2 separate regions of the Homo sapiens genome follow, and region 2 is linked to region 1. Evidence: fine-mapped expression QTL. A gene starts in region 1. The other region holds a variant in brackets. All regions are shown on one strand. Distances are from middle to middle.

Region 1 (2,925 bases):
GAGAAAGACCCTGTATCAAAAAAAAAAAAAAAAAAAAAAGATAGCAGCATGTCTTCCTGCTCCATTCCCTTTCCCATCCATTCGGTCACCCTAACTAACCCAGCATCCAGATGTCTGCCTCCCAGGTCCAGCTCTGTTAGCCTGGGGCGGGGATTAGCACACTTATTCTGTAAACAGCCAGATAGTAAATTTTAGGTTTTGCAGACCAAGAGGCTGATAGAATATGTTGTACAAGTACTTATATAACAAGACAGAAAATACTTTTCCACAAATTTGTCATTAGGGAAATTTCAAACATAATGATTGAGTACAATTTGTTTGTAATACGGGTTTACAAATGAGACAAATAGAATTCTTTGGGGGTGGTGCTCCCTATCATCAAATCGATTATCAGTGTTCATCTTCAATCTCTAGCTGGCAGGTTGTGCAAAAACAGGTCGTGGGCCATATCGGGCCCCCAGGCCACTGTTTGCTGACTCCTGACCTAAGAACCACCGTCGTGGGGCACGTCCAGTCCTGCTCTGAATTCCAGCCTCCCTTCTGAGCACCTAAATGGCTTCTTCCCCCGGTGTCACAACGATGATTTGCCCAACAGTGAAGTTTCTATACATTCTTAATTAGATAATTTCCTTCCTATGCAGCTCTCAAGTATTTCCTTCCCTTTTGAGGAGAATTTCATTTTCCACAACATATAAGCATAAAAGGTAACAAACTCAAATCATTTTCATTCATCAGTCATTCAACAAACATTTGCACCCGGGACCTTGGAAAATAGAACCGGAGGCAAAGTGGAGATGGTGAGAGGGGATCCAGGAGGAAGCACTCAGGAAAGGGGTCTCACACCTGCTGCGCACCCTGAGCCATGTCACTTCTCCTCCCTGGGCCTCCGTCTCCTCATGTGTGAAGCAAGGGGACCGGCAAGCAGCCTTGCACAGTCCATGAATGTGGTCATTCATCCAGGCTTCCCTGGCCAGCCTGTCTGGGTCTAGCTGTTCTCCCTGCTTCTTCTTGAACCCTTTCTCCTTCCCCAAATCCCCTTTGCCTCTCCCCAGACTGACTCCTACATATTCTGGGCCCTCTATTTATGACAGACCCAAAAGTTACCCTCCTCCCCACCCAGAGTCCCCCACCCCACCCCCATGCACCTGTTAACAGAAGGACTCTGAGAGCCATGGCTGGAAGGAGCCAGAACCTGGAAGGAGGTGAACCAGGGGTTGCAGGCACCACTGAGGAACCACAAGGAAGCCACCAAAGCAAAGAAGGGCAGAAAAGGAGAAGTAGGAGGCAGAAGTCTATCAGAGATTCAAAGGAAGAGGGCGGAGGCTCAGTGAGCACATAGCCCTGCCTGGTCTTCCGCCCAGGACTGCCCACAGCCTGCCCACCCTTCCTCCCCAGCTTCCTGACCCAAACTTTCAAAGTCAATACCACTATCCAAAAGGTGCCATTTGTCACCCACTTGTTTCTTGGGTTGGCCCAAGCATATGAACAAGCTGAACAGACTTAGCCTGCCTCCTGGAATTCGTGTTCTAAACATTAATACGGGCCAGGCGCAGTGGCTCACGCCTGTAATGCCAGCACTTTGGGAGGCCAAGGCAGGAGGATTGCTTGAGCCTGGGAGTTTGAAACCAGCCTGGGCAACATAGAGAGACCCTGTCTCTACAAAAAAATATTTTTAATTAGCTGGGCATGGTGGTGCGCGCCTGTAGCCCCTGCTACTGGACAGGCTGAGGTGTGAGAATTACTTGAGCCCGAGGTCCAGGCTGCAGTGAGCTAGGATCACACCACTGCACTCCAGCCTGGGCAACATAGGGAGACCCCGACTCTACAAAAAAATACATTTAAAAAATTAGCCAGGCATGGTGGCACATGCCTGTAGTCCTAGCTACTCCAGAGGCTGAGGCAGGAGGATTGTTTGAGCTCAGGAGTCTGAGACTGCAATGAGCCTCAATAATGCCACTGCACTCCAGCCCAGGTGACAGAGTGAGACTCTGTCTCAAAAAAAAAATTAAATAAATAAATAAGCAAACATTAATACAGATCAAACAAGTGTAGGAGGTAAAACTCTGTGTCTTCCTGAAAACACACTTTGCAAAATGTCCCTCCTTCAGCCCATGGAAATGGAAGCGCCCTTCAGCCAGAGCTGTCCTCATTTGTAGCCATCAACAAAGACAACTCAAGTACAGGCATACCTGGTGCTTTTTAAATATTATTTTGTGCTTTTTTTAGAGACAGAGTCTAGCTCTGTTGCCCAGGCTGGAGTGCAGTGGTGTAATCACAGCTCACTGCAGCTTCAATCAACCTCCTGGGCTCAAGCGATCCTCCTACCTCAGCCTTCCGAGTAGCTGGTACTACAGGCACATGCTGCCATGGCCAGCTAATTTTTTTTAAATTTTTTGTAGAGACAAGATCTTGCTATGTTGTTCAGGCTATTCTCAACCTCCTGGACTCAAGTGATCCTCCTTCCTCAGCCTCCCAAACTGCTGAGATTACAGGTGTGAGCCACTGCATCCAGCCTATTTTTGTGTGTGTGTGTGTGTGTGTGTGTAAAGGCCTCAAGCTCTTCACCCAAGAATTTTCACTTCTAGTAATTTATCCTAAGAATAGTTAAGAAGTGTAGTCAAAAATATATGTACAAACTTGGCTGGGTGCGGTGGCTCATGCCTGTAATCCTAGCATTTTGGGAGGCTGAGGCGGGGTGGCTCACTTGAGGTCAGCAATTGAAACCAGCCTGCCCAACATGGTGAAACCTCATCTTTACTAAAAAGACAAAAAAATTAGCCAGGCGTGGTGGCAGGCACCTGTAATCCCACCTGGGAGGCTGAGGCAGCAGAATCACTTGAACCCTGGAGGCGGAGGTTGCAGTGAGCAGAGATTGTGCCACTGCACTCCAGCCTAGGCGACAGAGCAAGACTCTTATCTCTAAAA
Region 2 (2,925 bases), 82 kb before region 1:
TCACTCTGATGGTGGTTTCTTTTGCTGTGCAGAATCTTCTTAGTTTAATTAGATCCCATTTGTCAATTTTGGCTTTTGTTGCCATTGCTTTTGGTGTTTTAGACTTGAAGTCCTTGCCCATGCCTGTGTCCTGAATGGTATTGCCTAGGTTTTCTTCTAGGGTTTTTATGGTTTTAGGACTAACATGTAAGTCTTTAAACTATCTTGAATTAATTTTTGTATAAGGTGTAAGGAAGGGATCCAGTTTCAGCTTTCTACATGTGGCTAGCCAGTTTTCCCAGCACCATTTATTAAATAGGGAATCCTTTCCCCATTGCTTGTTTTTGTCAGGTTTGTCAAAGATCAGATAGTTGTAGATATGCGGCATTACTTCTGAGGGCTCTGTTCTGTTCCATTGGTCTATATTTCTGTTTTGGTACCAGTACCATGCTGTTTTGGTTACTGTAGCCTGGTGGTATAGTTTGAAGTCGGGTAGCGTGATGCCTCTAGCTTTGTTCTTTTGGCTTAGGATTGACTTGGCAATGTGGGCTCTTTTTTGGTTCCATATGAACTTTAAAGTAGTTTTTTCCAATTCTGTGAAGAAAGTCATTGGTAGCTTGATGGGGATGGCATTGAATCTATAAATTACCTTGGCCAGTATGGCCATTTTCATGATATTGATTCTTCCTACCCATGAGCATGGAATGTTCTTCCATTTGTTTGTATCCTCTTTTATTTCATTGAGCAGTGGTTTGTAGTTCTCCTTCAAGAGGTCCTTCACATCCTTTGTAAGTTGGATTCCTAGGTATTTTATTCTCTTTGAAGCAATTGTAAATGGGAGTTCACTCATGATTTGGCTCTCTGTTTGTCTGTTATTGGTGTATAAGAATGCTTGTGATTTTTGCACATTGATTTTGTATGCTGAGACTTTGCTGAAGTTGCTTATCAGCTTAAGGACATTTTGGGCTGAGACGATGGGGTTTTCTAGATATACAATCATGTCATCTGCAAACAGGGACAATTTGACTTCCTCTTTTCCTAATCGAATGCCCTTTATTCCCTTCTGCTGCCTGATTGCCCTGGCCAGAACTTCCAACACTATGTTGAATAGGAGTGGTGAGAGAGGGCATTCCTGTCTTGTGCCAGTTTTCAAAGGGAATGCTTCCAGTTTTTGTCCATTCAGTATGATATTGGCTGTGGGTTTGTCATAGATAGCTCTTATTATTTTGAGATATGTCCTATCAGTACCTAATTTATGGAGAGTTTTTAGCATGAAGGGTTGTTGAATTTTGTCAAAGGCCTTTTCTGCATCTATTGAGACAATCATGTGGTTTTTGTCTTTGGTTCTGTTTATATGCTGGATTACGTTTATTGATTTTCGTATGTTGAACCAGCCTTGCATCCCAGGGATGAAGCCCACTTGATCATGGTGGATAAGCTTTTTGATGTGTTGCTGGATTCGGTTTGCCAGTATTTTATTGAGGATTTTTGCATCAATGTTCATCAAGGATATTGGTCTAAAATTCTCTTTTTTTGTTGTGTCTCTTCCAGGCTTTGGTCTCAGGATGATGCTGGCCTGATAAAATGAGTTAGGGAGGATTCCCTCTTTTTCTATTGA[T/C]TGGAAGAGTTTCAGAAGGAATGGTACCATCTCCTCCTTGTACCTCTGGTAGAATTCGGCTGTGAATCCATCTGGTCCTGGACTTTTTTTGGTTGGTAAGCTATTAATTATCGCCTCAATTTCAGAGCCTGTTATTGGTCTATTCAGAGATTCAACTTCTTCCTGGTTTAGTCTTGGGAGAGTGTATGTGTCGAGGAATTTATCCACTTCTTCTAGATTTTCTAGTTTATTTGCGTAGAGGTGTTTATAGTATTCTCTGATGGTAGTTTGTATTTCTGTGGGATTGGTGGTGATATCCCCTTTGTCATTTTTGTATTGCATCTATTTGATTCTTCTCTCTTTTCTTCTTTATTAGTCTTGCTAGGGCTCTATCAATTTTGTTGATCTTTTCAAAAAAACCAGCTCCTGGATTCATTAATTTTTTGAAGGGTTTTTTGTGTCTCTATTTCCTTCAGTTCTGCTCTAATCTTAGTTATTTCTTGCCTTCTGCTAGCTTTTGAATGTGTTTGCCCTTGCTTCTCTAGTTCTTTTAATTGCCATGTTAGGGTGTCAATTTTAGATCTTTCCTGCTTTCTCTTATGGGCATTTAGTGCTATAAATTTCCCTCTACACACTACTTTGAATGTGTCCCAGAGATTTTGGTATGTTGTGTCTTTGTTCTCATTGGTTTCAAAGAACATCTTTATTTCTGCCTTCATTTTGTTATGTACCCAGTAGTCCTTCAGGAGCAGGTTGTTCAGTTTCCATGTAGTTGAGCGGTTTTGAGTGAGTTTCTTCACCCTGAGTTCTAGTTTGATTGCACTGTGGTCCGAGAGACAGTTTGTTATAATTTCTGTTCTTTTACATTTGCTGAGGAGTGCTTTACTTCCAACTATGTGGTCAGTTTTGGAATAGGTGTGGTGTGGTGTTGAAAAGAATGTATATTCTGTTGATTTGGGGTGGAGAGTTTTGTAGATGTCTATTAGGTCCGCTTGGTGCAGAGCTGAGTTCAATTCCTGGATATCCTTGTTAACTTTCTGTCTCGTTGATCTGTCTAATGTTGACAGTGGGGTGTTAAAGTCTCCCATTATTATTGTGTGGGAGTCTAAGTCTCTTTGTAGGTCACTAAGGACTTGCTTTATGAATCTGGGTGCTCCTGTATTGGGTGCATATATATTTAGGATAGTTAGTTCTTCTTGTTGAATTGATCCCTTTACCATTATGTAATGGCCTTCTTTGTCTCTTTTGATCTTTGTTGGTTTAAAGACTGTTTTACCCGAGACTAGGATTGCAACCCCTGCCTTTTTTTGTTTTCCATTTGCTTGGTAGATCTTCCTCCATCCCTTTAT

The links. PIP is the estimated chance that this variant, and not a neighbour inherited with it, causes the effect. A credible set is the group of variants that fine-mapping cannot tell apart.
Region 2: its variant is the best candidate, but not a certain one, in a credible set for the expression of ITGAM in whole blood (INTERVAL, PIP 0.55).

What each region holds. Positions count from the first base shown.
Region 1 is chr16:31,258,313-31,261,237 of GRCh38, reverse strand. ITGAM (integrin subunit alpha M) reads right to left here and starts at 1,263. Exons shown (of 30, transcript NM_000632.4): 1 at 1,146-1,263. The coding sequence starts at 1,173. RefSeq lists an enhancer at 1,407-1,506.
Region 2 is chr16:31,340,158-31,343,082 of GRCh38, reverse strand. No RefSeq gene overlaps it. Among named protein-coding and RNA genes, the nearest start is that of ITGAX, 14 kb to the left of the region's middle. The variant T/C (reference allele first, on the strand shown) is at 1,598.